Linked DNA regions of Homo sapiens. The protein of the gene in region 2 purifies or fractionates together with the protein of the main gene of each other region. This does not show direct contact. Each region holds a gene or a part of one and is shown on either strand. Other genes may lie near its edges.

The links.
Region 1: the proteins of CDK19 (region 2) and MED4 purify together in Homo sapiens (affinity purification with mass spectrometry; 9 studies listed by BioGRID and IntAct, with this or other methods). This does not show direct contact.
Region 3: the proteins of CDK19 (region 2) and MED9 purify together in Homo sapiens (affinity purification with mass spectrometry; 9 studies listed by BioGRID and IntAct, with this or other methods). This does not show direct contact.
Region 4: the proteins of CDK19 (region 2) and MED12 purify together in Homo sapiens (affinity purification with mass spectrometry; 12 studies listed by BioGRID and IntAct, with this or other methods). This does not show direct contact.

What each region holds. Positions count from the first base shown.
Region 1 is NC_000013.11:48,075,224-48,079,812, reverse strand, and holds the end of MED4 (mediator of RNA polymerase II transcription subunit 4), read left to right. Parts: exon of another isoform or gene 1-36; intron 37-2,259; exon of another isoform or gene 2,260-2,371; intron 2,372-2,461; exon of another isoform or gene 2,462-2,501; coding exon 2,502-2,674; 3' UTR 2,675-4,089; downstream 4,090-4,589. UniProt on the Homo sapiens protein: Component of the Mediator complex, a coactivator involved in the regulated transcription of nearly all RNA polymerase II-dependent genes.
Region 2 is NC_000006.12:110,811,206-110,819,887, reverse strand, and holds the start of CDK19 (cyclin-dependent kinase 19), read left to right. Parts: upstream 1-4,418; 5' UTR 4,419-4,751; coding exon 4,752-4,879; intron 4,880-5,072; exon of another isoform or gene 5,073-5,271; intron 5,272-8,682.
Region 3 is NC_000017.11:17,471,657-17,481,092, forward strand, and holds the start of MED9 (mediator of RNA polymerase II transcription subunit 9), read left to right. Parts: upstream 1-5,343; 5' UTR 5,344-5,385; coding exon 5,386-5,609; intron 5,610-9,436.
Region 4 is NC_000023.11:71,112,848-71,121,757, forward strand, and holds the start of MED12 (mediator of RNA polymerase II transcription subunit 12), read left to right. Parts: upstream 1-5,748; 5' UTR 5,749-5,907; coding exon 5,908-6,006; intron 6,007-6,525; coding exon 6,526-6,630; intron 6,631-6,838; coding exon 6,839-7,030; intron 7,031-7,166; coding exon 7,167-7,323; intron 7,324-8,123; coding exon 8,124-8,305; intron 8,306-8,479; coding exon 8,480-8,590; intron 8,591-8,714; coding exon 8,715-8,910. UniProt on the Homo sapiens protein: Component of the Mediator complex, a coactivator involved in the regulated transcription of nearly all RNA polymerase II-dependent genes.

The DNA.
Region 1 (4,589 bases), on a different chromosome or scaffold from region 2:
GATCAGGGTTTTCCAGAGATGACAAGGTTGGAATATCTGGCGGTAAAGCAAGTTTGAGATTCCCGACACAATTTTTTTTTTTTTGTAAATTTGAGACAGTCTTGTTATGTCACCCAGGCTGGAGCGTGTTGGCGAAATCTTGGCTCCCAGGTTCAAGTGATTCTTGTGCCTCAGCCTCCCGAGTAGCTGGGATTACAGGTGTGTGCCACCAGGCCTGGCTAATTTTTGTATTTTTAGTGGATATGGGGTTTCGCTCTGTTGGCCAGGCTGGTCTCGAACTCCTGACCCCAAGCAATCACCTGCCTCAGCCTCCCAAAGTACTGGAATTACAGGTGTGAGCCAGTGTGCCTGCCTCTCAGACCCAGTTCATTGTAATAGCTAGATTCTTTGCCGGTTTATTCTGCTCTAAAGATTCTCCTTGAGGGAGGTATGAAATTAGAACAAGCTGCCTTTCTCTTATTTGTAAATATTACACTGTCTTCCTCAGGCATTTGGCCTCTCTTTTTAAATTATTGCTCTAAACATAGCTTTTTTATAATTGTGAAACATGCTATGTAAATAGAGTAAGATAGTTTACGGAATAAAGTGAACACACTCCTGAACAACCCCCAAGTTAACAAAATGAATAACAATAGCTTTTTATAAACTTTTATAACTTTATAAAATAGTATTTCTGTGAGACCCAGTTCATTCTGAGCTTCAGTTTTCCTCAAGTTTTTCATAGGTTTGTGCTATTTTTATATATATTTGTTTTATATTATTCCTCATCTTTTATAGTTTGTAGGTGACTTTTGTTTTGATGTGGTAGAACATTTGGGAAGTAGAAAAAGGCATTTAAAAAAGGAAAAAAATATACCCTTTCTGAGGCAGTCACTTTAAATATTTTAGCCTGTTTCCTTTTTTCCCCTATACATTTTTTGCTTAATGTTACATCATAAGGCTGTCCCTGTGTCATTAATAATGCTTTGTATGCATCATTTTTGTTAGCTACCTAAAGTACAACCAGGGGAACTCAACTGTGATATCCTTGGATATCACCTCATATTTCTCATGTTTTAAAAGTACAGGAAAAACAGATATGGGGAGTCACTGCCACATTTTGGACCAAGGAAGGGACAGACCTAAAAACAGTCTTCCCCAGCTCCATCCCAAGGCCGATACTCTCATATCATGGTGCTGTCATTGGAGAGGGTGCAGTGTAATGTGGCCCACTCCATGGCAGAGAAGTTAGATGAGGCATCAGAGGCCAGAGCTGGCAAGCAGGAAATTACCCACTGGGGTTCCAGGGAGACTTGCTGGGAAGCTGCCCTTTGGGATTCTGGTGAAACCTGCTAGGAAACCACCTTTAGAGGCGCCACCGAAAGTTGCTGTGGTGAACACCACTTAATGTCCTGCACACCAACCAGGCATCACAGCAGTAAAGGAGACAAAACCACCTGATCCAGGAAGTGAAACTTGTTTGCTAGTGGAGTCCCACCTGTGCCCTCTACTGACAAAACTTAATTGTGGCAGCTGGCAAAGGAGAAATGGTTTCAGGGGCCAGAGAGAAGGGTAGATTTGAGGCTAACTGGCATACCTTTCTAGTTAATACCATAACTCTTTCTTTTGACCCTTTAAAAATCTGCCTTCTTTATTTGAGTCTTGAACTATACCTGTTTATGTGCTCTGTCCCTTTGCTTCAGAAATACAGACTTTAAATGTAACTTGGGCCCTTTTTTAAGGTATTTCATATGCATACATTGCTAATCAACCTCTCTTTGATGAGAGTCACTTACAATAGCAGTTCCTCTATCAAGAAATCATTCAAATCTATTATAATACTAAAGTACCTATTACTTGTTTATAATATGTAGAATAATCTACATAACCTAGTATACATAAGTATGTATTATATATGCATATAATAGATACATAGATACAGGAAAAATTTGTAATTACAAATGTCTTACAAAAGAAAAATTATGTCAACTGACTAAATAGTTTCTTACAGAGTAGTATGATTTTTTTAAAAAAGTCCCCAGTTGCTAAAATATCAACTTTTCCTTGATAAATTTGATTTTTATTAATTTGGCTAAATGTGTATTTTTTTCCTAGTCTTAAAAAAATTGGCACAATAGCTTATGCCTGTAATCCCAACACTTTGGGAGGCTGAGGTAGCAGGATAGCTTGAGCCCAGGAGTTGGAGACCAGCCTGGTTAACATAGTGAGACCTCATCTCTACAAAAACTTTAAAAAGTACTCAAGCATGGTGGCACATACCTGTAACCCAGTTACTCAGGAGGCTGAGGCAGGAGGATTGCTTGAGCCTAGGTCAGGGCTTCAGTGATGTATTCGTGCCACTGCACTCAAGCCTGGGTGACAGAATGAGACCCTGTGTCAAAAAAAGAAGAGAAAAAAGTAAAATTAAAAAAAATACTTCAAATTGTTGCATAAAGGGAAAAGTAAGAACTAGATTAATTACAGATAGAGCTGTTCTTATCTATGCTTCTTTTTTTCTCCAGATGTCCTTGCTCCACAGTATCCATGGCAGTCAAATGACATGTCGATGAATATGTTACCACCAAATCATAGTAGTGACTTTTTGTTGGAACCTCCTGGGCATAATAAAGAAAATGAAGATGATGTAGAGATTATGTCAACGGACTCCTCAAGCAGTAGTAGTGAGTCTGATTGAAAAACCTTAAAAGACAATATACAGAATTGAATACTGTAGAATTCTGTTTCTTTAACAGTAGCAGGGAAATGTAAACTACAGGTGACAAAAAATACCCAGGTAAACACTGGCTTTGGTAGAATTGTGCAGTCATTAAAAGTCAAAATTTTTTGACTTTCTTTTTAAAGCCAAAGACCATAGTTTTAGTTTTAAGCCACTAGGTAGATATTTAGGGGAATAGTCAAAATTTACTGTTGAAAAAGCAGTTGCTATGTGCTTTCTTACCCTGTTCTGTTCCAGTTTTGCTGGATTTGTACATAGCCATTCTAGAAATAGAGTTGAGGGAAATTATCCATATACATATCACTAATAGGCTTCTTGGAATTATTTAGAAAAGCATTTTTAAACTGGCAGTGGATGACTGAATAGGCATCATATTTCTTTTTGTGTGTCATTTAAAAGTAACAAAAACTGCCATTTGACAGTAAAGGCTCTTGGCTTCTGTTGGAGGCATGGGAAATTGTCTCAATTTGTACAGTTTGTAATTGTAATTTTTGTAAATAAATTTGTTTGTACATTGTATGCTTTTTTTTTAGTTTAAATATACTGTCAGTGTAGGTAGGAAATTATTTCTGTAAATCCAGTTGCATTTTATAATACTTGAGTGACTAACTGAATTGAAACCTATTACAATTAATAGGGTTCTCAAAGGCCTATTCCTATTAGAAGAAATAATTTTTTTTAATAATTGAAAAAATTTACCACAGCCTTGTCTGATTTTAAGAATAGATTGTGTGAAGATTTAGAATGGAAAGCAACCATTTCTTCCCTTCACCTTCCTCTTCTTACAGTTCCCCAGGAGTCATTTTTAACCACTTTTAATTTCTGTTGGTAACCTCTGTGTTTAGGTAATATGCTTATACAACTATTTCTTGATGTATCAGTTTTAGACAATGTATCTTCTGATTTCAAAGGTAATACAACATTTAATGTGAAACATTTAGTGAATACAGTAAAGGAGAAAATAAAATTGTTAGCATTCTACCCAGAGATAATATCAATTCATATTGTAGTGTAGATTTTTTTAAAGTTCACATACACTTTTTTGTAAAATGAGAATAATGTTTATTTCCTGAGATACTGCTGTATTTTTTAATTGCTAATCTGTATTCTTCAAATGAACTGAGAATTCCATTTTTCCATCATTTTTTCCTTTTGATTATTTTCGATCTCTAGAAAAATTGGAAAATAGGAGATTAATCTTATATTTTCACCATCTAGAATTAAGGACATACAATGTTTGAATGTCTTTCCCTCCAGGGTTATTTTTAGGAATGGACTAACACAATATCTAATTTTAACCTTGCCTTGTCCGTATACTAGGAATATTGATCCATGTGTATACATTCTTGAAAGATTTACTTTAATGGCTAAAATTTTATTGTGGTATGTGCCATAATGTAACTGCCTGTTTTTATCACCAAATCTTTAGGGTAGATTCAAAAGGATTGTGTTTTTCAAATTCTTTAATACTGTATTAGTTTTCAGTTGCTGCCGTAACAAATTACCACAAACTTGGCTCAAAACAACACAAATTTATCTTAGTTTTGTACATCACAAATGTGAAGTGGGTCTCACCTAAAATCAAGGTGTGAGCAGGGCTGCATTCCTTCCTGGAGGCCATAGGGGAGAATCTGTCCCCTGTGTCTTCCAGGTTTTAGAGGCCGCCCTTGGTCCTGCTCCAGGCCCCTGGTTGGTGAGTGTTTCTCATTCTGCATTACTGTGATGCTCTTCTGCCTACCTGTCCCATATTTAAAGGATCCTGTGATCATTCTGAGCCCACTGGATAACCCAGAATAATCTTCTTATTTAAAGTGAGATGATTAGCAACCTTTATTCTGTTTGCAACCTTAATTCTTCCTTGCCATGTAACAAA
Region 2 (8,682 bases):
GACCAGGGGTCAGTGAGTAGACCAGAGGTCACCATCCTGGTTTTGGTGGGTTTTGTCTAGCTTCTTTACTGCATCTTATCAGTGGAGTCTTTATGATCTGTATCTTGTGCAGGCTTCCTATTTCACCATGTGACTAAAAACACCTAGCTTCCTGGGAATGCAGCACAGCAGGTCTCAGCCTTATTCTACCCTATTCAAGATGGAGTCACTGTGGTTCAAATGCCTGACAGTTATTTCTATCTTGATGCCCCCATAGGTACTTCCAATTCGACATGCCCCAACCAAGCTTATCTTTCTCTCAAAAATTGCTCCCATTCCTGTGTTTCCTAACTTTCTGAAATTTCTACCATATTGCTGAAGTCAAAATTCTCAAAGTTATCTTGGATTCTTCCCTCTCCTTTAGTCCCACATTTAATTAATTACTAAGTCTTGTTAAATTTTACTCCTAAATAATTATAGTATGTGCTTTTTTCTTATAGTGCTGCTCTTCCGTGGTTCAGATCCTTGTTTTTTGTTTGTTAGTTTGTTTTGAAACAGAGTTTCGATCTTGTTGCCCAGGCTGGAGTGCAATGGTGCAATCTTGGCTCACTGCAACCTCTGCCTCCCAGGTTCAAGTGATTCTCCTGCCTCAGCCTCCTGAGTAGCTGGGATTACAGGCATGCGCCACCACGCCCGGCTCATTTTGTATTTGTAGTAGAGACGGGGTTTCTCCGTGTTGATTAGGCTGGTCTCAAACTCCTGGACTGAGGTGATCCGCCCACCTCGGCCTCCCAAAGTGGTGGGATTACAGCCATGAGCCACTGCACCCGGCCCAGATCGTTGTTTTTACCGTCCTATTGCAATAGCTTCTTTGCTAGTCTCACCTTCCTCCAATTGAACCTGAACACTTTTGTCAGAGAATTTGCTTAATACTCAGGGCTGATTATAGTTCTCCTTAGCTCAAAAGTGTGTAATAGCTTCCTATTGCCTACAGAATTGAGAAAAGAAAAAAACTTTCATTTGAGGAATGTGAGGCCTTTTAAATTATAAGGCACAGAGAGACATTAAAATAATACAGGAATTAGGCTCGCGCCTATAATCCCAACACTTTGGGAGGCCAAGGTGGGCGGATCACTTGATGCCAGGAGTTCAAGACCAGCCTGGCCAACATGGCAAAACCCTGTCTCTACTAAAAATACAATTAGTTGGGCTTGGTGGCACATGCCTGTAATCCCAGCTACACAGGAGGCTGAGACAGGAGAATCACTAGAACCCAGGAGGCAGAGACTGCAGTGAGGTGAGATCGCGCCACAGCATTCCAGCCTGGGTGACAGAGCAAGACTCTGTCTCAAAATAAATAAATAAATAAATAAATATATATATAAATAAGATACTGGAATCAGGTGATACTTTCCCCTTGAGCTATGTATTCATCTCCTGAAATGCTTGCTATTGCCACAAGTAGCTACAAATTAATCCAATAATGCTGCACCAGATGCTATAACCCACACCCTATATCTTAACAATGTATAGCTCATTCATTAATCAATGTTATTCCTGTAAACCAATGAGAATTCCTCACAAACAACTTTGAGCCCACTTCCTATCCCCCTTTTTTTGCCTTTAAAAATCTACTTGCAACTGCTCCTGATTGGAGTGTACATTCAGGGCAACTTGTATCTATACTCCTGGGTTGCAATTCTAAAGCTTGGCTCAAATAAACTCTCTACTTATATTAATTTTGCCCCAGCTTTTTCCTTTTAGGTCGACAGAATAATGAAACCTAAAACCTCTCCCTGACATAAATAGCTTTTCATAATTTGACCTCTGCTTATCTGTTTAGTATTTTCTTATCCATTACTTTTTCCTGTCTTAATCTGTAATATTCAAACTAGTTGCATTTCTCAGAATATATGATGTTCTCTCATGATTTATGTACATGCTGTTCTACCTGAAATAATTCCTTGTTTCTTGCTCTTCGACTTGTCCTTCAAGTAAAGGCTTACTCATGCTTTAAATTTTGGCTCTCACTCAGCAGATGGGGCTGGAGTGAAAAAAAAATTTGGCTCAAACCTACCTACTTCATGAAGTCTACCCTGACTCACTTAGAACCCCGCCTATTCTACCAGTGCTCTTTTAAACCACAGTTTATTTTTAATTTGCTTGCATATTTGTTTTTTCAGGTTTAATTCCCCAATGGAAAAAGACTAATTTTTTTCCTGCTATCTCCAGCAGTTATTATAGTGCATGGCAACAAGAGCAACTGAGATTTTTCTTGATTAAAGATACCATTTTTTTTTGAGTCGGGGTCTTGCTCTGTTGCCCAGGCTGGAGTGCAGTGGCATGGTCTCAGCTCACTGCAACTTCTGCCTCCCGGGTTCAAGGGATTCTCCTGCCTCAGCCTCCCGAGTAAATGGGACTACAGACACATGCTACCACACCTGGCTAATTTTTGCATTTTTAATAAGAGGCAGGGTTTCACTGTCTTGGCCAGGCTGGTCTTGAACTCCAGACCTCGTGATCCACCCGCCTTGGCCTCCCAAAGTGCTGGGATTACAGGTGTGAGCCACTGCACCCAGCCTGAAGAGACTCAAGGTCTAAGGAAGTTTTCCAGGAGTGGGTGATGTAGCAAATAAGGTAAATCATTCCCCCTCCCACTAGTTTTCCAAGTTTCTTTCAAAACCTAGCAGGCAGTTCACTATTCTTTCCTTATCTACCACTTTGGGTAGAATTGACAATTCCCTTCTTTGTCCTCCTAATGAATGTGTTATGTCCTATCCTAGCACCAATCATGTTTAAGTGTGTATCCCAAACATTTGGGACATTAGGCTCACCATTACAGGGGAGGAAACCCTCTTAGGTTCTTCAGCTGGTCTATAAACTAAATTGATACCAGTCAGGTTAACAGGAGAAAAAGTTTTAATTACGTATGTATGCACAAGAGTCCCACAAAATATGAGACTCAAAGAAGGGCCAGATGTTTGACACTTATATTACATCCTGACCTCAAAAAGGAAGTGGGGCCCGGCATGGTGGCACGGACCTGTAATCCCAGCTACTCAGGAGTCTGAGGCAGGAGGATCCTTGAGCTCAGGAGTTGGACGCCAGCCTGGGCAACACAGCAAGGCCAGTCTCTTCAAAACAAAAGTGGGGTTTGGGGCTTCCAGGAGTGGTGGAGACAAGTTAAGAGAGGATAAGAGGAAAAAATGTCTAAGGTGAATAAAGGTTGACTTTTATGCAGATAAAAGTATCTCAGATGATACAAGTTGACTAGCAGCAGCTCTCTTTCTGGTAAGATTCCTTTAATTACGAAAATTTCCTTTAGAAATGTAAATTTCTCTTTACAAAGGAAGAGTTATTCTTTATTTTAGGCAGTAGTGGGATAAGTGAAGCATTTTCCTGTGTTGGCTGGATCTTAATTTATTTTGCTAAAAGACATCAATATGCCAGAGTGGCGTATTTTGGGGTGGCATATTCTGGACTCCTTCAGTTATAATTTGGGGTAGTGTGTCCTGAGCCCCAACACAATGAAATCAATCAACGTTCACCCTAACTAAAGGGGCTTTCTTAAACATTCTAGAACCTCACATCATGCATAGACCATAAAAAATCCTTTACAATTCAACCCAAAGGATCGTAAACGCGGCTTCCTCCAGGCACTTTTAATTGTCCTTAGACAGATGGCCAAAGCCTGGTTATGGGAACCGCATATGCTAAGAGAAAGCTGACTACAGCGCCAAGAAAATGATGATTGGCTGCTGGGGCTCAGAAGTTGCATGTTCTCCTCTGGCCAAGGCAGGCTCTAGGAAACTGCTGAAGGTTCAGTTTTTGAAATACGGTTTTTGCATCGTAAAGAAAAAAGATCAACCTATCAGGAAGAACCGAGCACATCCAATCACCAATCAAGAGCGGGAAAGAAGCCAAAGCCTGGGGATACCCACGCACCAACGAGGACGTCATTCTCCAGCCCCCGCCAATGAGCAGCGGGACGGGGGGCGGGGCAATAGGCGGACCCACTGCCCTAGAAAAGAAACAAGCTGCGGTACAACTGTCCTCACCAGCCCTCGCCTCCCGAGTCACTGCAGCCAACCCTTCAGCAAGGTGCTGATTTAATGCTTTCCATACTCTCTGCGTGGGGCTAGTTACAGTGAAGTATCCCCTTCCCACTAGAGTAAGGCACTTCTTTCCAGTGTCTCCCCGAGAACCGCAGAAAGCACACTGGAACTTCGAGCTTTCTACCTTCACAGGAACCGGGAGCCGTGCGCTACCTGAGGGGGAGGGGCGGCCCTGGTACGCAGGCGCGCATGCTTTGTGGGGGCGAGGCTGTGGTGGCCCGAGGTAACCTGGGAGCTGTATTTCTTACGCCGGCAAAACCGCCCAGGCCGCTGAGGCCTTCGCGACTTCATTTCCCAGGAGCCTCCGCGACCATGGGGCGGGCCAGTGAGTTCGCTAATGAGCTCGAGGAAGCCACGGCGCGGCCCACCAGGTTCCAAAACAAGGAAATGAAGGAGGGAGGCGGGACTGGGGGTGCCTGCGGGAGCCGCCGCCGCCGTCGCGGAGGAGGAGGAGGAAGAGGTGGAGGAGGTGGCTGCTGTGGCCGCCGAGGAGTCCCTTGCTGAAGGCGGACCGCGGAGCGGCGGGCGGCGGGCGGCGCGCGCGCGCGCGCGAGAGGCGGCTGTTGGAGAAGTGGAGCGGCGGTCGCGGGGGGAGGAGGAGGAGGGACTGAGCGGCGGCGGCCCCCGCGTCCCGTGCCTCTATGGGGGAAGCAGACAATGGATTATGATTTCAAGGCGAAGCTGGCGGCGGAGCGGGAGCGGGTGGAGGATTTGTTTGAGTACGAAGGGTGCAAAGTGGGACGCGGCACCTACGGTCACGTCTACAAGGCGAGGCGGAAAGATGGGTAAGAGCAGGGGCGGGAGGAGTAGGCTCGCTCGGGTCCTCGCCCTGCCCGCGACCTGGCGGGATGGGTGGGTCGGATCCCAGTCGGGCCGTGCCCGAGGGGCGAGGCGGAGGGGGTCGCGGGGTTGCGTCCGGACACCGACTCCGAGGGGCGCCCGTTCCGCCCGCCTCCCCCGCGCGGCCCCGTCGCGTACCTCGAACTCCCGCGGCGCAGCCCGGTCCGAGGCGTCGGTCCCGTCCCAGAGGGGCGCCCTCCGAGTGCTCGGAGACGGCGGGGGGACTCGAGTTGGGACCGCGGTGGAGGAGGAGTTTGTGGGGTCTAGTCTCTTGGGGGAACGCAGCGGGCAGGCAGAGCTCCGCTGCGGAGTTGCCGCTCCGGCCCTGGGTAGTGACGGTCGTTGTGGAACTTCCAATCGGCTGAGCGCCTCGCGGGGGCGGCGGTTTGAAACCTCGCCGGGGAGCCTGTCGGGCGAACGCGGCCTGGGGTCCTCGCCAGCCCCACGGCTCTGACCCGCTGGGCACCGCCGCCCCCAGCAGCGATCTCCGCCCTTCGGGCTGGCCGGCCCGTTGGCTTCTCTATGCAGTCCTCCCATCCCTGTTGTATGCCCGGCGTCCCGGGTTTCTCATTCTCACATTCTGAATTGCGTACCTTCCCCCTTCGAAGGAGACCTGATGGGCTAGCTGCGTTTCGCAAGCGGCAACTTAAGAGTTGGCTGAATTCTCTGCTACCCACCCTTTACCTTGCAGCCCCTTGGGTATCTTGGGTATTATGTCCTCCACTCCATCCTCTGCCAGATGACTGTGGGCTGGGGCTTATGGAGTACCTATATTATCAAGAACGGAATACGAAGTGACAGAGCTGGGCCTGAACCTTTGTTTTCCTAGGAGTTGAGGGAGAACTGTAGGAACACCTTGGGAAGCCTTTACTGGTTGTCCTCTTAAGAAGAGCTGGATAATGTACTGAGAATACCTGTCCTTTCTTGGTCCTGGAGGGCAGACAGCAGCTACAGCAGGACTGGTGGAACCAGCTTCCTGGCAGGAATTACCCTCCCCCAAAGCTAGGGACCCAGGAAGATGCCCTGTCCAGCATAGACTTTAAAGAGAGTCAAACTCTACGGAAGAGGATTGTAACGGACCATTTCTGAATAAAGTGATGATCAGCCACAATGACATTAGTAAAATTTGAAGTGCCGCTTATCTTTGTGCGTGCTGTTATAATTTGATGTGGTTGGTATATGAACTCTAGGACTAAAGTACGTTGTGTGCGTATGCACTAACTTCATAAAACAACTCTATTATAAAGTGTTTTGTCATAAGGTATCGTGAAAATTGCAAAGTGCTATCCAAGTGTAAAGGATTATTATTATTGCAGAATTTTTTTTTTCTTTTGTAACTGAACAGGCCTTAAGGTACTCAGTTGTTTCTCATAATTCCTTTAATTACCAGGTGTCCTTGAATGCTTATCATGGAATGTGAGATACTATAATTAACATATTTTGGTTTTGGAATATCCACTCCACCTGTTATACTAGTGTTCTTGTGGGAATTTTATCAGTTATATTTGGGGAAAGCACATCCAGTTTTCCGTTTGGACATTGTTAATAAATCTGAGGTGGGTTTTTCCCATACTCCTCATGCTAACTTTGTGGTATACTTTTGGTTTTAAAAAATGTATCTTAGTGTTTTTTTTGTTAAAATAGCTTTCTTTTATTAGGGAACTTTTGAGAAGTTAAAAATTCTGCTTCTGAATTGTATTTGAATAGTATGGGCTTACAACAAAAACCAGATAATTCTTGCTTCTATTCTTTTTGAATATTTTTCCCCTCTAATAAAGTACTTGATTCGAATACACTTCCTTTTTGAGTGAAATTTGTTAATTAGAATTAATAAAGCTTCTTTACTAGAGTAAGATTAGTTTGTGTGTCTTCAAAATATAATGCTTTTTTTCTAAAAAAAAAAAAAACCTCTCAGGATCTGAAAGCATTAGTTTAAATCACTGTATTACGTATAAGAAAAACCGTAATAAAGGCTTTTTTCCTGGATGAAAGATCTGGTTGAGATTTGCAACTTTACAGTAAACACCCACGTCTCTTGTGGGTTGGTAGTGGGATTAATTTTATGTTCATTGATACCAGCAATTTGAAAGAACATCTGTGTCCTTTGGGTTCATGTTAAATTTTTTTTTTTTTTTTTTTTTACTGTTTTAAACAGTGGGCAGATTTGCATAGTAAAGGATTTTACACTCCGATCATGGTAGATTACAGTTTAGCTCTTTCTAGATTTTATTTTGGTTAACTCAGAAAATGCATAATGCTATTTTAGGGAGCCAGAAATCACATAGGTTACATTAAAGATAAATGATTCTGGTATATATAATGTAGTATATAACCAAAACATTGTTCAGGTCTTTAGAAGAAACATTAGAAGAAATAAAATATCATTAGAAAAGTTTAATACTACAGTTAGCAAAATGTTATTTCCCTTGAAGTATGACTTTAGGCAATATTAATTATATCACAAATTTATAAGAGGCTGGAAATGCAAGATTTACATCTGAGTTTTTCACCTTTAATTAAAAATATTCTCTGGGTCGGGTGCGGTGGCTCACGCCTGTAATCCCAGCACTTTGGGAGGCCGAGGCGGGTGGATCACGAGGTCAGGAGATCGAGACCATCCTGGTGAACATGGTGAAACCCCGTCTCTATTAAAAATACAAAAGGAATTAGCCGGGCATGGTGGCGGGTACTTGTAGTCCCAGCTGCTCGGGAGGCTGAGGCAGGACAATGGCGTGAACCCGGGAGGTGGAGCTTGCAGTGAGCCGAGATCCCGCCACTGCACTCCAGCCAGGGCGACAGAGCGAGACTCTGTCTCAAAAAAAAAAAAAAGTTATTTGTTCACCTTTTTGTTTTGCAGGAAGAGAGGCTTTTGACCCAACTCTCCTTTTTATTTAATATTTATACTTTTGAATATTTTTTGTAGAGACCGGGTCTTGCTGTGTTGCCAGAGCTAGTCTTGAACTCCTGGGCTCAAGTGATCTTCCTGTCTCAGCCTCCCAAAATGCTGGGATTACAAGTGTGAGCCATCATGCTGGACCTCCAACTCTCTTTTACTTTAAAAAAAAAAAAAAATCCGGTTTAAAAGTTGTTCTTTTTTTGTTTTTTCGTTTTACAGACAGGGTCTTGCTGTGTTGTTCAGGTTGGTCTTGAACTCCTGGCTTCCCAAAGTGCTGGCATTACAGGCTCATGCCACCACACCCAGCCAAATGTTACTCTTGAAGAGAAACAAGTTCAGAATATTTCTGAACTTTTTAATACAAGCAAGAATTCATAAAATAAATTTTCTTCATTATTAAGAAGTCGCACATGACAATTTATGGTTACAAATTTCAAGACTGCATTTTTCCAGTTAGAAACATTTAAAAATTTGATCGATAAAGGAATATTGTTAAAAAGTTCTTTTGTTGGCCGGGCGCCGTGGCTCACACCTTTAATCCCAGCACTTTGGGAAGCCGAGGCAGGTGGATCACCTGAGACCAGGAGACCAGCCTGGCCAACAAGACGAAACCCCGTCTCTTCTAAAAATACAAAAATTAGCCGAGCGTGGTGCCTTGCATGGCTGACACAGCTTACAGAGTTTGTTTTGTCAGGGTTTCAAATGAGTGGTTGATGACTACATAACTTAATGTATGTCATGAAATTCTTCACAATGAGTACATGTAGATGCATATAGCTAATAGGTACAATAGTATTTGCCTGTGTTTGATGGGTTTTTCACAATCGGTTTGTAGTTAGATTATTGTATTTG
Region 3 (9,436 bases), on a different chromosome or scaffold from region 2:
CGGGCCAGGTGCAGTGGCTCACGCCTATAATCCCAGCACTTTGGGAGGCCGAGGTGGGTGGATCACCTGAGGTCAGGAGTTTGAGACCAGCCTGGCCAACATGGCGAAACCCCATCTCTACTAAAAATACAAAAAAATTAGCTGGGCATTGTGTCGGGTGCTTGTAATCCCAACTATTCGGGAGGCTGAGGCAGGAGAATCGCTTGAACTCAGGAGGTGGAGGTTGCAGTGAGCCGAGACTGTGCCATTGCACTCTAGCCTGGGCAACAAGAGTGAAACTCTGCCTCAAAAAAAAAAAAAAAAAAAAAAAAAAAGCTGGGGGGAAGAGTGACAAAAACAAAAAGATGACCATGAGAAGAAGGGCATTTTTAAAAAAAAAGGATTAACAGAAGGGGTTAAGATTGAGGCTTTTGGGGAGCAGCTGGTAAACAGAAAAAGAAATTGGCTAACAAATAATTTGGATGAAAATTATGTAGTAAAGAGATTGGAAAAAATACGGCTTCAGAACAATAATGAACCATTTTTGATAAAAGCTAGTTCCTGGAATGGATTGCCTCTCATTTGTATTATATCAAAAGCTGTTTGGTAATTTAAGGGCAGCTGGTGAAGATCTGGTGAAAGATCACAAACAGAAGGACTAAAAGAAAGGACTCAAGGAGAACATTCTCTCAGTCTGAAAAAAATACAGTCGGATTTGTATGCTGAAATGCCCCCAAAACAAATGATTCTGAGAAATGAAACCACTAACAGAAATGAGTTGAGAAAATGAACGTAATGGAGTATCTCAGAGTTAGGAGAGGACGGCTGAAAAGAATAAAAAGGAGATTCAAGTGGAGCTCAGAGAGAGAAGAAAGACAATCCGCAGGGTGGACCCAAGCAAAGGGCTTTTGTCTGAGGTTTATGCAATGAATCGTGGCTTCAGTGAGCTGATTCCTGGTATACATTGCACTACATTTGGCCAGAACAATGATTGCTGCCTTTTTTTTTTTTAACTCACAAAAATCAAAGTATTGTGTAGCTTTTTCCACCTGCCTGAGGCTCCAGGTTATGAAAAGAAAAGGATGAATCATAAGTAAGAATATAGCTTTGATGAAAAAGCCCTCTATCATATGATGACATGATCAGTTTAACAAGACCCATGGTGTCTGTCTGACGGAGACATGACTATTTTTGGACTTTACGTAGCAGAATTCTTGTATCACAAGAATATTCATAGATATGTGTGATACGGGTCCACTTTGAGCATCTGAAAGTTCAGTTCTGGGTGCAGTCTGGTTTTTGTATGTGTTCTTGTAGTAGCAGTTTATTGCATAAGGAATAATTACTCCAGGGTTTTTGAAAAAAAAAAAAATTAAGTAGCAGTAGTAGCTAACACATAGATGCTTACTATGTGCCAGGCACTGTTTGAAGCTCTTGACATGCATTCCCTCTTGTAACTGTTTCAGCAGCCCCATTAGGTAGGTACTGTATGATTCCATTTTGCAGATGAGGAGACCCAGGCTCAGGGAGGTTAAATAACTTGCCCAGCGTCATAGAGCCAGAGAGGAGCAGAGCATGGAGTCTATGTGCCAAACCCCCTTGCACCCACCCCTCTATTTGGCCGTTGTTCATATTTATCCTATTTACTTCAAGTTATCTCATATACAAGAGATAAAACACCACATAGAAAGTTGCTGTGCCTGTTATATTCCCAGTCCTTGCTTCGTCCCCTGTCCCATCCATGTGAGGTGTATCCCCCAGTTCCTTTTTCAAATACATTTACATAGGTGTCATATTTATGGACAATAGAGAATGTTATTTTTCATGCTTCAACATTTGCATAAGTGGTAATATACTCTATATCCATTGTAGAACTCGCTTTTTCCTCCATTTCCACCATTATGATGTGAGTGTTGTCTATGTTGATATGAATCCATTTCTCTGCACCATCCAGTTCTGTAGTTGCTGGCCACATTTGGATGCTGAGCAGTGATATGTGACTGCTGGAATTGAGATGTACGGTGAGTGTAAAACACCCGGTTTCAAAGACAGTAGGAAAAACAGTAAAATATCCTATTAATAATTTTCATATTGATTACTTGTTGAAATTATAATATTTTGGACATATTGGGTTAAATAAAATGTATCATTAAAATTAGCTTCACCTATGTTTTCTCTCTCTTTTTTTTTTTTTTTTTTTTTGAGACAGAGTCTCGCTGTATCGCCCAGGCTGGAGTGCAGTGGTGTGATCTTGGCTCACTGCAACCTCTGCTTCCCAGCTTCAAGCAATTCTCCTGCCTCAGCCTCCCAAGTAGCTGGGACTACAGGTGTGTGCCACCACGCCCAACTAATTTTTGTATTTTTAGTAGAGATGGGGTTTCACTATGTTGGCTAGGCTAACCTCAAGTGATCCACCCGCCTTGGCATCCCAAAGTGCTGAGATTACAGACATAAGCCATGACACCCGACCTGTTTTCTTATTTTTTAATATGGCTGCTAGAAAACTGAACACCGCCTCTGCGGCTTGCATGTTTGGCTTACATTTTTATCAAAGGGCAGTGATGTGGATCATTCCTCTTAGCTGCTGTCTGTCTGGGTTTTGTTAATTGGTGAAGTAAGAAGTCCTAAATCTAATAGCAAGAAGAATTACTATTTACTGCGCACAGATATTTACTCTAAGTGCTTTACAAGTAATGGCCCATTCAGTCTTGCGAGGTGGCATGGCTGCACGAAGTGAGATTAAGCAATTGCCCAGTCACGAAGCTCCAAGGAGGCTGAGTTGAGGCTGAAGTCAGGCGGCTGCCTCCAAAGCCTGACCTTGTAACCACTAACTGGACAAGGCCCCGTGAGAAACGGCATAAATCCACCTAAGAAAGCAATGACCTTAGAGCTTCCCTTGTGGTGGGGTGAAGTTTCCTTCACCACAATACATTGTCCTTACATATCAATGGAGCATCTGTCTTTCCTGACTTTTAACAGAGCAGGTTATAAACAGACACACATTTGTTGTGGCAATTTCAGCTTTAATGAAACCAGCACAGGCAGTATTTTTCTGACATCCGCTTGCAACATTATGAAGTCAGCTTTACTCTTTGCCACTAATTATATTAACTATTTTTAGGGCAAACTGTCAATGCACCATACTGGTTCATGCTTCCTAGGTTTTCAACCTGTTTTCTTTAGCCATATCTATTTATACCTCAAGTGTTTTTTCTTTTAAGAAGCATCCTCATTTTTCTGACAATGATATAGTTGTGGCTCATAATTAAGTTATAAAACACTCTGGGAGGGCAAAGATGACGTGTGATTGCCATGGGGATATTATTGATGAATATTGGATTGGTTTTTGAATTCTGAATTCAAACCCACTTTAACATTTTGAATCATAAAGTTACAGAACTGGTAGGGATCCGAAGTCTCTTTAGTGTTGGTTAAGATCATAGACTTGGCATCAGCAACTGCGTTGACCCTTAGGCTGGGATCTTAACCATTGTAAGTCTTGGTTTTCTCATCTAGAAAATGGGGATCCTGACATCCATCTTCTAGACCTCTGTCTGTGGATTGAGACAGTGACTGTAACTCTGTTCCCTGTATCTACTTTTACTCCATGGTAGTTGTGGTAATTACTATTATTATTACTATTACTATATCATCTTTCCCCAGATGACTCCAAGGGTATACAGTCTCTTCAAGCACATCTGGCCTTTTTCTCCTCCATGCTCAACCAGAACTCTTGAACTTTCCCTTAGTTGGAGAGGTCAATGGTTAGAAGGAAGAAAACTCCGCAACCCACTCCCTCCCTTTGCTCTCTCTCTGGGGCACCGTGGGCAGCTCTTGCTGCAGAGAGCTGTGCTGAGGCCCTTTACTACAGAACCTGTACAGCGCACCCTCCAACAGCACTTCCATCTATGGTCCTACTCCCCAAGGATCTGCCTCCGCACAGCCCTCCCAATGTGCCTGAAAATATCAGCATTGATCCTTTCCCTGGCCACCTTGCTCTTAAGGCTCCTGTTCATCATGCTATGTGGATGTGGACCTCCTCGCCTCTCTGTACTGCCCATGATGGTGGATTACAGCAGAATGGGCTCACCAGTTGACAGCTTTCCCCACTCATGTCTTCTACTCACTAGCTAAGCTTGGGGTGGGTGTCCCCATTGCCCGGAAAATTACTACACAGCCCTCATATCAAACTTGTTTTGAGAAGCATAACCATAAACCCATCTTTGGCCTATGATCCTAGGGAGTCCTCATGCCAACAAGACCTTTTGGGGTCAGCCACGCATGTGAAGTTAGAATGCAGTTTAGGCTGTGCCATGAATCTGAACTAAATATGATTTTAGGGGTGAGGAAACTGGGACCTAGGGGCTTGGGGAACTGGCCCGAAGGTATGGAGAGTACCTGACCTTGTCGTTCTTCCAGGATATGATATTTACTCCTGGCACCAATCCCCTCTACCTTGTACTGAAAGCAAGGACAGCCTGCCTGCAACCACACATACAGGTGGCCATCCAGCAGGTGCATACTAAATGTGTGTTGAGTTGAATTATTAGACTCTTTCTAAGCAACCTTGCAGCATTGAAGGGACCGCAATCCCTTTGCCTCTGCGTCCTTAGGGCTAAACTCGAGGTCTCGATGTCTTGCACTGTGGGCTGGGCCGGGTTTGGTGCCTCACCCAGCAGGTAAGTGCTGTCTACGCCTCCCACAGGTCCAGTGGCTCCTCTCCAGACTTGGGTGCACTGGGCCAGGCTGCACCTTACTAATCTCAAGGCTTCCTGTGTTTGTGGCTTTGGGGCCCTCTTCATCGTGTGAATAGGAATAAGAAGATTGTTATTTCTGGCCGGGTGCAGTGGCTCACGCCTGTAATCCCAGCACTTTGGGAGGCCGAGACGGGCGGATCACCTGAGGTGGGGAGTTCGAGACCAGCCTGATCAACATGGAGAAACCCCGTCTCTACTAAAAATATAAAATTAGCCGGGCGTGGTGGTGCATGCCTGTAATCCCAGCTACTAGGGAGGCTGAGGCAGGAGAATCGCTTGAACCCGGGAGGCGGAGGTTGCGGTGAGCCGAGATCGCGCCACTGCACTCCAGCCTGGGCAACAAGAGCGAAATTCCGTCTCAAAAAAAAAAAAAAGATTGTTATTTCTGAAATAAACCCCTATTTCTCACTATTTAATAATTTAGCAATCTTGACTCACAATCCAAATCCAGGCACCCCAGACCCACCCACGGCCCGTTGCCTAGCAACAGCCTCCCCACCCCCGCCTCCGCGCCTTTTCCCGCCGACTGCCCAGTGCGCACGCTCAGAGCCTTCCTCCACACCCCGCCCCTGCAGGGCGCGCGGTGGTGACGTGTAGAGTGCGCGACGCTTTTGGCGACCCGACCTCTGGCTAACCTACCCCCGGAGCCATGGCCTCTGCTGGGGTGGCAGCCGGGCGACAGGCGGAGGATGTATTGCCGCCAACGTCCGACCAGCCGCTGCCTGACACCAAGCCGCTGCCGCCTCCTCAGCCGCCGCCGGTCCCTGCGCCTCAACCGCAGCAGTCGCCGGCGCCACGGCCTCAGTCACCTGCCCGCGCGAGGGAGGAAGAGAACTACTCCTTTTTACCTTTGGTTCACAACATCATCAAATGGTAAGAACCTAGGAGAGGACCAGGCCCCATACTCCCTCCAGCTTCTCCTCTCAGCCGTTTCAGAGCTGCAAGAGGCCTTGGCGCTCTGGGGCACGCCCCCGTTTCACAGATGGGGAAACTCAGACCCAGAGCGGGAAGAGGCCTTTCCCAAGACCACAGAGACATTCCATGAGTTAAGCAAACGATTTGAGCCTCGAGAGGTGCGATATCCTTAAGAATGAAGCCAGCTTAGAGACTAAATGCAGACTCTTGTCCAGCGGCTCAAATGTTCATCCCAGCGATCTTGAGCAAATTAAATCTCTTTAAGCCTCAGTTTTCTCACCTTTAATGTTGGTAATACTCACTTTAGTTCCTTAGTTCAGCAAACTCAACAGATAAGCATCATCTTCCCTGTGCCAAGTGCTACGGGATGGACGCAGTAAAAGGGGCCAACTTTTCACCCCCAAAGGTTTAGATAGAAGGAAAAAAAGACATGATTGGGAATAACCCACAATTCAAAAAGATTGAGACGGGAGTGGTGGCGATGGGAAACATTAGACTAAGCAGAAACACAGAAGTTGCCTCAGATGATTAGACCCACTTGTACTGACTTTGTTCTAACAGTACCAAAGGAAATAATTGTTGTCATCCTTTTGGCCAGCCTTCAGGGTAGCCTGAGTTTTCAAAGTGACTCTGTAGAGGAAAAACCAAAAACAAAAACACAAAAGTCTCACTGATCCTTATGTTTGCCTAAATTATTATTTTTTTTGAGAGAGGGTCTCGCTCTGTCACCCAGACTGGAGTACAGTGGCGTGATCTCGGCTCACTGCAGCCTCAACCTCCTGGCCTCAAGCCATCCTCCCACCTCATCCTCCCAAGTAACCGGAACCACAGGCATGAGCCATGGCACCCAGCGAATTTTTGTATTTTTTGTAGAGATGGAGTTTCACCATGTTGCCCAGGCTGTAAATTATTTTCATTATGTTACTTCACTGTATATCCACGTGATACTAGGTGTAAACCCCTAGGCTTGTAACTCTTACTCAACCATTAAAGACCAAAACAAAGTAAATTAAAAGAAAATTACGATTCCAGTAACATTCAGGTGAACATGAATGTGCTCTTCACTGTTTTACTGAAATGGAATTGTTACAACGTGAAGGTCTTGACTGTTAGTGGCCCACCCACTTTTGAGTTTAAGCAAATTAGATTCACTTGCTGTGGGATGACCTGATGCTCTTCTGCCACTTTTCAAATAACTACAAAGGCTTTGTTCTCACATTAGACCCTGGCTTCATTTGGTTTCACTTGGTGTTTAAATACTGTTTATAGGGGCCAGGCATGGTGTCTCATGCCTGTAATCCCAGCACTTTGGGAGGCCAAGGCGGGCGGATCACGAGGTCAGAGTTTGAGACCAGCCTCGTCGACATGGCAAAACCCCATCTCTACTAAAAACACAAAAATTAGCCGGGTGTGGTGGCGGCTGCCTGTAATCCCAGCTACTCAGGAGGCTGAGGCAGGAGAATCACTTGAACCCGGGAGGTGGAGGTTGCAGTGAGCCGAGATCATGCCATTGCACTCCAGCCTGGGCAACAAGAGCAAGACTCTGCCTCAAAAAAAAAAAAAAAGTAATGCTTATAGGATAAGGCAGCCTATTCAGTTTTCGTGAGCCTGTGATAATGATCATAGACAGAAATACATATGGAGCCCCTGTAATCCTAGGGCAGTGCTGGATTATAAAGGGTTTATTCTGATTAACCCTAGTTTACTGGTTTTAAGAAAAATGTGGAAAAATGAAAACACAAAATGTACACATTCACAAGGACAGCTCTTGAACTCCCCAAGAGTATATTCTTGAGCCCTGGTAGAGCAGCTGGGTTGGGTTGGCCTTAAAAGATGTAGTAGTAAGTTATACTAGAGAGAACAGGCTTTGAAGTTAGACAGCCCTGTGTTCAAATCTGTGTACTGACATTTTCTTGCCTTCTAATCTTGATATAAATGCCTAACCTTTCTAGGCCATAATCTTCTTATCTCTAATATGTCCATAGTGGACCTCAAAAGAGAGGTTCAGATTATGTCATAGCTCTATAATGTGCTGACTGGGTGACCTTGGCAAGTAGCTTAGCTTCTCTGAGCCTGTTTTTCTCTTGTGAAATGGGAATGCTTATGTCATAGGATTGTTGGGAGATGTACTCAGGAGTGTACCTGTGAAACATAGTGGGTTGATCACATGTGCTTGTCTCTGTTCCATCTAAAAGGACAGAGAAGGGAGTTTAAAAAAAAAAAAAAGCATAAAACCTTCAGACATGGTGGTTCATGCCTGTAATCCCAACACTTTAGGAGGCTGAGGCGAGCCGGTCGCTTGAGCCTGGGAGTTCAAGACCAGCCTGGGCAACATGGCAAAACCCCGTCCCTACAAAAAATACAAAAAAAATTAGCCAGGCATGGTGGTGTGTGCCTGCAGTCCTGGCTACTTGGGAGGCTGAAGTGGGAGGATCACTTGAACCCAGATCATGCCACTGCATTCTAGCATGGGTGACAGAATGAGACCCTGTGTCAAAAATAAAAAGCATAAAACCAAAAAGAATAGGACAGGAGATGATTGCCACAAAGTGGATGACCAGGGCTAATTCATCTACCAACTCCTAAGCACCTGGTTTGTTAACCATGGCCTATCCCCAGATCTCAGGAACTCTAGTGCAAGGACCCCCTGGAAATAGGGGTGAAGGTGGGTCTAAGAACAGGAAGATTACTTGGAAGTCTGTTTAAGAAGCAGGTCCCCACAGTCCTGTCCCACCTCCCATCCCCTCCAAGCGGCCGGGTGACTACCCTTCTTCCAACTTGGCAGATGGTTAAAAGGTTACTCTCCCGAGATTTATTCTTAGGAAGGAATAAGCCAGAGAGTACCTTGACTGTGGGACACCAGGCACACTGCAGGGGTAGGTAGGGGGAGCCATACTGAAAAGAGGGATTAAGAGAAAGTTCACAGTCTGAAGAGAGACACCACCCGAGCCTTCCCCCACCTGGCTTCTAGATTGGCAGCCAAAGAGAGTGGAAGTGCCCTCTCTATGGTGCGTGACCAATTAAGAGAAAAGACATTGGAAAAAAAAAAAGCCTAGTCAATTAATTCTGAGAAAATGAACAAGCATCACTCATTTGCAGAGCTTCCACTAAGCCTTTTAGTGTTTTATTCTTAAATATATGAGTGGATGGCCAAGGTCACTAAGCATAGGAAGAAACCCCCTGGTAAGAAAGACACGGGTCAGGCGCGGTGCCTCATGTCTGTCTGCAAGCCCAGCACCTGGGCAGGCTGAGATGGGAGGATAGCTTGAACCCAGGGAGCTGAGGCTACGGTGAGCCATGATCGCACTGCTACACTTCAGCCTGGGTGACATAGACTCTGTCTCAAAGAAGAAAGAAAGAAAGAGAGGAGACAGAGAGAGAGAGGAAAAAAGAGAAAGACAAGACAGAAGAGCAGAAAAAGCCACGTGGAGGAAACAGTAGCCACAAAGGAATGGAGTGGTTCTGCAGCTGTAAACATGAGAAGAGGCTAGGATCCAACCTGCAAACCTTCAGTATAGGCGTGTCTTTGAGTTTATAGGCAAATGAGGGAGGAATAAGGGCAGAGGAGGAAGGGAGAGGAGACCTCGTGAAGCCTGGGGGAGTCAGAAGGCTTGGTAAGAGTGATGCCAACAATGAGTCTTCAATTAGGAAAGGGAGGCAGGAGGAATGTTGGTATAGGAAAAACATGTAAGGACACGAAGCCAAGAAATAGCATCTACTCATGGGAGTCAGCTTCTAGCTTGGTGGTGTTGAGCATACATCCAAGGCAGGAAGAGGTGGCTGGG
Region 4 (8,910 bases), on a different chromosome or scaffold from region 2:
AGACAGAAAGTGGTGTAGGATATTAAGCAAAGAAAAACAGCACTTGCCTGGGAGTCTCAGGAAAACTGGACTATATGGCCCAGCTTAGTATTTAGTATGTATCTTTAGTATGTATTAGTTTGCTAGGGCTGCCATAAGTTATCCCCAAACTGAGTGGCTTAAACCAACAGAAATTTATTCTCTCGGCTGGGTGCAGTGACTCACGCCTGCAATCCCAGCACTTTGGGAGGCCAAGGCAGGTGGATTGCTTGAGGAGTTCGAGACCAGCCTGGCCAACCTGGTGAAACCCCGTCTCTACTAAAAATACAAAAATTAGCCAGACATGGTGGCAACACCTGTAATCCCAGCTACTCGGGAGGCTGAAACATGAGAATCGCTTGAATCTAGGAGGCAGAGGTTGCAGTGAGCCAAAATTGCGCCACTGCACTCTAGCCTGTGCAACAGAGTGAGACTCCATCTCAAATAAATAAATAAATAAATAAATAAAAATTTTTTAAAAAGGAAAAAAAGGCATTTATTTTCTCACAGTTCTGGAGCCCAGAAGTCCGAAATCAGTGTGGCCAGGGTTGGTCCCTTCTGGAGGCGCTGAGGAAGAAGTTGTTCCATGCCTCTCTTCTAGCTTCTGGTGGCTGCCGTCGATCCTTGGTGCTCCTTGGCTTGTAGACACATCATTCCAATCTCTGCCTCCATCTTTGCATTACCTCTTCTTCTTCTCTGCATCTCCTTTATCCTTCTCTTCTCTTACAGGGACACCTGTCATTGGATTTATGGCCCACCCTAATCCAGGGTGTTCTCTCCTAGGAGCTTTGCCTTAATTACAGCTGCTAAAAGCCTTTTGTCAAAGAAGGTGACATCCACAGGTTCCAAGTGAACATATCTTTTTGGAGGCCACATTCAACCCACTACAGAGGGCATTCTCCAATTTAAAAGTCTTCAAAAGCTACTCATGGCCTTCAGAATAAAGCCCAAGCTCCAATGATCAATTCCAGCCACACTGGATATGTCATACGCATTTCCTTTCTCTGGAATTAGCCTCTTCCTAACTTTCTGTAGGCTAAAATCCTTCAGAAGGCAAAACCCCATCTCTACAAAAATACAAAAATTAGCCACGTTTGGTAGCACTCACCTGTAGTCCCAGCTACTCAGGTGGCTGAGGCACAAGAATCACTTGAACCCAGGAGGCAGAGGTTGCAGTGAACTGAGATCGCACACTGCACTCCAGCCAGAGTGACAGAGCAAGACTCTGCCTAAAAAATAAAATAAATAAAATAAATAAATCCTTCAGGGCTACATGCCTATTAGAATAGCCAAAATGGGCTGGGCAAGGTGGCTCACACCTTGCCTGAAATCCCAGCACTTTGGGAGGCTGAGGCGAGTGGGTTGCTTGAGCCCAGGAGTTGGAGACCAGCCTGGGCAACACAGCAAGATCCCATCTCTTGTTTAAAAAAAAAAAAAAAAAAAAAAGAGGCCGGGCATGGTGGCTCATGCCTGTAATCCCAGCACTTTGGAAGGCCAAGGTGAGTGGATCATTTGAGGTCAGGAGTTCAAGACCAGCCTGGCCTACATGGTGAAACCCCGTCTCTACTAAAAAATACAAAAATTAGCCAGGCAATAGTGGCGCATTCCTGTAATCCCAGCTACTTGAGAGGCTAAGGCAGGAGAACTGCTTGAGCCTGGGAGGCGGAGGTTGCAGTGAGCTGAGATTGCACCACTGCACTCCAGTCTGGGTGACAGAGTGAGACCCTGTCTCAAAAAAAAAAAAAAAAATTGCCCAAATCCGGAACACGGACTACACCAAATGCTGGCAAGGATGTGGAGCAACAGGAACAACTCTCACTTGTTGCTGGGGGAAATGCAAAAATGGTACGGTACAGCCACTGGGGAAGACGGTTTGGCAGTTTCCTATAAAACTAAACATACTCTTTCAGCAATCATGTTCCTTGGTATTAACAAAGGAGTGGAGGCCGGGCGCGGTGGCTCACGCCTGTAATCCCAGCACTTTGGGAGGCTGAGACGGGCGGATCACGAGGTCAGGAGATCGAGACCATCCTGGCTAACACGGTGAAACCCCGTCTCTACTAAAAATACAAAAATTAGCCGGGCATGGTGGCGCGTGCCTGTAGTCCCAGCTACACAGGAGGCTGAGGCAGGAGAATGGCGTGAACCCGGGAGGTGGAGCTTGCAGTGAGTCGAGATCGCGCCACTGCACTCCAGCCTGGGCGACAGAGCGAAACTTCGTCTCAAAAAAAAAAAAAAAAAAAAAAAAAACAAAGGAGTGGAAGACTTGTGTTCACATAAAAACCTGCAGACGGATGTTTATAGCAGTTTCATTCATAATTGCCCAAACTTGGAAGCAACGAAGGTGTCTTTCAGTAGGTTTATGGATAAACTGTGGTACATCCTGAAAGTGAAATATTATTCGGTGCAAAAAGAAATGAGCTATTAAGGCCGTGAAGAGACATGGGAGAAAACTTAAATACATATGACTAAGTGAAAGAAGCCATGCAGAAAAGGCCACCTACTATAGGATTCCAACTATATGACATTCTGGAAAGGGCGAAACTATGGAGACAGTAAAAAGATCAACGGTTGCCAGGGGTTGTCGGAGAGGGAAGGATGAATAGGTGGAGCAGAAAAAGTTTTTAGGTCAGTGAAAATATTCTGTAAGATACTACAATGGTGGACACATGTTATTCTTTGTCCAAACTCACAGACTGTATAAAATAACATCAAGAGTGAACTTTAACGTAAACCATGAACTTTGGGTAATGATGTTCAAGGTAGGTCCATCAACTCTAACGAATATACCATTCTGGTGGGTTTGTTGTTGTTGTTGTTGTTGTTGTTGTTGTTTTGTTTTGTTTTGTTTTGTTTTGAGACAGAGTTTCACTCTGTTGCCCAGGCTGAAGTGCAGTGGGGTCATCATGGCTTACTGCAGCGTCCACCTCCTGAGATCGAGTGATTCTCTCCCCTCGGCCTCCAGAGTAGCTGGGACTACAGGCGCCCGCCCCTAAACCCTGCTAATGTTTTATTTTGCTTTTGGAGAGATAGAGGTTCTACCATGTTGCCCAGGCTGGTCTAGAACTCCTGGGCTCAAGCAATCCACCCATCTCGGCCTCCCAAAGTGGTGGGATTACAGGCATGAGCCACCATGCCTGGCCCACTCTGGTGGGGGATGTCAATGGGGGAGTTTATCTATGTGTGAGGGCAGACAGTATATGGGAATTCTCCATACCTTCCTCTCAATTTTGCTGTGAATCTAAAACTGCTCTAAAAAATTCTTTTATGCTGGGTGCTGTGGCTCATGCCTGTAATCCCAGCACTTTCAGAGGCTGAGGTGGGTGGATCGCTAGAGACCAGGAGTTTAAGTCCAGCCTGGGCAACATAGCAAAACCCTGTCTCCACCAAAAAAAAAAAAAAAAAAAAAAAGCAAAAATTAACCGGGTGTGGTGGCCAGCGCCTGTGATCCTAGATACTTGGGAGGCTGAGGTGGGAGGTTTGCTTGAGCCCAGGAGGTAGAGGTTGCAGTGAAGTGAGATTGCACCACTGCAGTCTAGCCTGGGCCACTGAGTGAGACCTTGTCAAAAAAAAAAAAAAAAGAAAAAAAAAGAAAGAAAAGAAAAATTATCTTTTTAAAAATATCCTTCAGGTTGGTGGCTCACGCCTGTAATCCCAACACTTTGAGAGGTGGAGGCAGGTGGATCACCTGAGGTCGGGAGTTCGAGACCAGCCTGACCAACATAGAGAAACCCCGTCTCTACTAAAAATACAACAACAAAAAAATATTTAGCTGGGCATGGTGGTGCATGCCTGTAATCCCAGCTACTCGGGAGGCTGAGGCAGGAGAATCGCTTGAACCAGGGAGGCAGAGGTTGCAGTAAGCCGAGATTGCGCCATTGCACTCCAGCCTGGGCAACAAGAGCGAAACTCAGTCTCAAAATAAATAAATAAATAAATAAATAAATAAATAAATAAATAAAATATCGTTCAGGCTGAGCGTGGTGGCTCACGCCTGTAATCCCAGCACTTTGGGAGGCCGAGGTGGGCGGATCACTTGAGGTCACGAGTTTGACACCAGCCTGGCCAACATGGAGAAACCCCGTCTCTACTAAAAATACAGAAATTAGCTAGGCATGATGGCGCAAGCCTGTAATCCCAGCTACTGGGGAGGCTGAGGCAAGAGAATCACTTGAACCTGGGAGGCGGAGGTTGCAGTGAACCGAGATCACGCCACTGCACTCCAGCCTGGGCAACAAGAGTGAGACTCCGTCTCAAAACAATAAATAAAATAAAAAATAAAATAAAATAAAAATATCCTTCAGAGTTAGTTCAAATGTTACCTCAGCCTCCTGAGCAGCTGGCATTACAGGCGCCTGCCACCACACAAGCTAATTTTTGTATTTTTAGTAGAGATGGGATTTCACCACGTTGGCCAGGCTGGTCTTGAACTCCTGACCTCAGGTGATTCCCTGCCTTGGCCTCCCAAAGTGCTGGGATTACGGACGTGAGCCACCACTCCCCGCCTTGAATTACTTCTTCTTTCCATTGTGATTCAATAGCATTTTGTTATTTTTGTTACTGGTGTTATTTTTGTTTATTGTTATTTGTTACTTTTGTTACAGCACACTGGCTGTCTTTTCTCTAAAAGGCAATACAAGGCCGGCACAGTGGCGCACGCCTGTAGTCCAGGCTACTGGGAGGCTGAGGCGGGAGGATCGCTGGAGTCCAGAAGGTTGATGCTGCAGTGAGCCGTGATAGCGCCACTGCACTCCAGCCTAGGCGACAGAGGGAGAACCTGCCTCAAAATAAACAAATAGCAATACGACAATAGGATATTGGCTCTGGAATTCAGAATCTTAGTGCCAGCTCTGTTACTCAGTAGCTGTATAATATTGGATAAGTGAATTTTCACACTTTGAAAACCAGCTTCCTCCATCCGCAAAATCGAGCCAATAATAATCCCTAACTCATGAGGCTGTGAGCAGATTAAAGGAGATAGTGTCTGAAAAGCATCTGACACAATAGGTGCCTCTTTAGCTAGACCAAGGGTTCTTAACCTGGAGTTCATGGACCCTTAGGGGATACATGGATGAACTTCAGGGGATCTAAGAATCTAAAGCAACATTTTGCATGTCAATATATGCATATTATTATTATTATTATTATTATTTCTGGGAAGAAGGTCCATAGCTTTCATCAGCACCTTTAAGGGTTTGTGAATCAAAAACGTTAGTATGCGGTACCCTTGGGCAGAAAAACAAACAAGAAAAGGTTAGACAACTCGATGGTAGACCTTGAGGGATTAGAGCCAGCCTTTCAGGGTTTAATAGGTTCTTTCTCATGCATACATAGTTTCTAATGTTCACAATAGCCCCTTGAAGGAGGTGTTAGCGCACCTATTTTTCAGATGCCGGAACTAAGAAACGAACTGATCTGTAATAGACGGAGTTCCTAACCAATGCAAATATTATTGAAGACTTTTCTAGGCCAAAACCGAGCTAGGCTATGGGAACCGAAGTCCAGTCAGAACTCAGCACCACAGAGGCCTCCTTCTTCCCTGGTTTGCATCCCCAGCTCATTCTGCGCCTCCGGAACGTTTCATAGATTTTTGCTGAGTGAAATCGACTTGCTGCCGCCACCGCCGAAAAACTCCCGGGGCACAGAGCTCCGCCCCCACCGGGCCAGGCCCCACCTCCTCTGCAGTCGGTATTGTCCGATGGTTCCCGGCGTACCTCGGCTTCCCTCGGTAGTTTCCGGCAATGGTCGAGAGTTTCTAACGTGCCCCCTTGTTGTCTCTCGGCCGCCGTCCTCTCAACCACCGCCCCCCTTTTCGGCTCCCTCTCCCCCTTCCCGTTCCCCCAGTCAGCCTGGCCCTGCTGGTGCCTCCGGCGCTACGGGCTGGGCAAGATGGCGGCCTTCGGGATCTTGAGCTACGAACACCGGCCCCTGAAGCGGCCGCGGCTGGGGCCTCCCGATGTTTACCCTCAGGACCCCAAACAGAAGGAGGTGCGTTCGAAAATCGGGGCTCTGGAGGGGCCGGGGGCACGCGGTCAGCCTAGGAGGAGGCACTGACGGCTGGGAATGGGGGGCGGGGCGGTTCGGTGAGAGCAAAAGTCCCGAAAGGGGGAAGAGTAAAGTGGGCTGGCGTGGGAGGGCAGGACGGGGGGCGGTGGGGGGTTCCAAGGTATGAATAGGGGGTGGTGTAGGGGCCGCACCAGAGGCGCCCTCCTCCACACACACCTCAGAAAGTTGTCTGAGACAGCTTGGTGGGGTACGGCTGCTCGGCTGTTCGCAAGAGAAGAGTGATGTTTGAGGGCGCGCTGGGTGGCTGGGAATCCTAGTGACCATGGGAGTGAGGGTGGGGTCCAAGTGAACGTAAGGGCCCAGCTTTAAGTAACGATCTGTTCTACACGGAACCCTCCTCCTGCCCTTTCACCTTGTTCCTTCTTTTCTCCTGCCCTACTCTCCCACCCCTTCCCCCTTCCCCTAAGGAAAAAACAACTAAACGCCGCTTTCCTGCCTCAGGATGAACTGACGGCCTTGAATGTAAAACAAGGTTTCAATAACCAGCCTGCTGTCTCTGGGGATGAGCATGGCAGTGCCAAGAACGTCAGCTTCAATCCTGCCAAGGTGAGACAACTCTGCCAGGCTGAAGGAAAAGGCTGGAAGAATCTAAGAAGGAGCAAAGGCCCTGGGTTGGGAAGACTTATAGGGACAACCTAAGTGGCTGAGTTTGCCTTCATGACCTAATACTATCTCATTGGCATTTGCCCAGCAAAAGGCAGGACCACCTGTCTGCCCCTTCTTCCCACCCTGAGGTACACTTTTCTTCCCTCAGATCAGTTCCAACTTCAGCAGCATTATTGCAGAGAAATTACGTTGTAATACCCTTCCTGACACTGGTCGCAGGAAGCCCCAAGTGAACCAGAAGGATAACTTCTGGCTGGTGACTGCACGATCCCAGAGTGCCATTAACACTTGGTTCACTGACTTGGCTGGCACCAAGCCACTCACGCAACTAGCCAAAAAGGTAAGGTACTGTTTCCTGTCCTTCAGGCCAAGGAGGGAGCATGGGGTACCAAGTACCCTCCTATTCCCATATTAAGCTACATGGGTGTCAGCTCATGGGGATAATAGAGACCTCACTATTTGCAATGTCCATCCAGGTCCCCATTTTCAGTAAGAAGGAAGAGGTGTTTGGGTACTTAGCCAAATACACAGTGCCTGTGATGCGGGCTGCCTGGCTCATTAAGATGACCTGTGCCTACTATGCAGCAATCTCTGAGACCAAGGTTAAGAAGAGACATGTTGACCCTTTCATGGGTGAGTAACTCCTAACACCAGGTGTACTGCTGATGGCTTCAAGGAGTGATAGAGACACCCTTGGAACCATCCTCCTTCTTAATCTAGATTCCTTGTTTCTGCTTGTTTCTTGCATTTGTTTGATCAGTAAACACTGAGAAATTTGAGTGTCTACTGTGCGCATATACTGGGCTACAAAGATGTCCGGTGCATAATCTCTGCCCCTAGGATACTAGTAGTCTAACAGGGCTGCTAAGGTATATGTACAAATAACATAATTAAATATAGAAAGTGGTGAATGTCAAGCTAGGAGCAGAAGGTTCTTTGAGTGGACAAAAGATTACTTTCTTATGGGGGTACCCGGAAAGGCTTTAGGAAGGTGGGATTTGACTAGAGACTAAAAGGATGAACTGAATTTACAAATATGGTGATTAGGGGTGGGGGTAAGGTATTCTAAGTAGAAGGATTTTTTTTTTTTTGAGACAGAGCAAGACTCTGTCACCCAGGCTAGAGTGCAGTGGCAGGATCTTGGCTTACTGCAACCTCCACCTCCCGGGTTAAAGTGATTCTCCTGTCTCAGCCTCCCGAGTAGCTGGGATTACAGGCGCCCACCACTGCGCCCGGCTAATTTTTGTATTTTTCTAGAGACGGGGTTTCACCATCTTGGCCAGGCTGGTCTCGAACTCCTGACCTCGTGATCCACCTGCCTCAGCCTCCCAAAGTGCTGGGATTACAGGCATGAGCCACCGCACCCAGCCAGTAGAAGGATATTCTAAGCAGAAGGATAGTATCAAATAGCCCTTTTTCCCTCTTTCCTCCAGAATGGACTCAGATCATCACCAAGTACTTATGGGAGCAGTTACAGAAGATGGCTGAATACTACCGGCCAGGGCCTGCAGGAAGTGGGGGCTGTGGTTCCACGATAGGGCCCTTGCCCCATGATGTAGAGGTGGCAATCCGGCAGTGGGATTACACCGAGAAGCTGGCCATGTTCATGTTTCAGGTAGAGAGTAGGGCATGCTGTGTGGGGCATTGGGTTGAGCTTGAACTTGTACTCTGCCAGTAGAGAACAGAATCTGCCTGCCACCTTGCCCCAGTTGTGGTTCTCTTCATCTTTTCATTTACTTTATCTGCTTCATCTCTAATAGTCCCCTCTTCCCTCCCCTGGTACCCATAGGATGGAATGCTGGACAGACATGAGTTCCTGACCTGGGTGCTTGAGTGTTTTGAGAAGATCCGCCCTGGAGAGGATGAATTGCTTAAACTGCTGCTGCCTCTGCTTCTCCGAGTAAGGCTTGGAATTTTGGTACTGGTGGGGCAGGGGGAGTCTAAGAAGAATTTGAGGAAGAATAAAATGTTAGAGCAGGGTCCCCTGGAGAGAACTAGGGGCTCTGATGGTCGTGTCTTCACAGTACTCTGGGGAATTTGTTCAGTCTGCATACCTGTCCCGCCGGCTTGCCTACTTCTGTACACGGAGACTGGCCCTGCAGCTGGATGGTGTGAGCAGTCACTCATCTCATGTTATATCTGCTCAGTCAACAAGCACGCTACCCACCACCCCTGCTCCTCAGCCCCCAACTAGCAGCACACCCTCGACTCCCTTTAGTG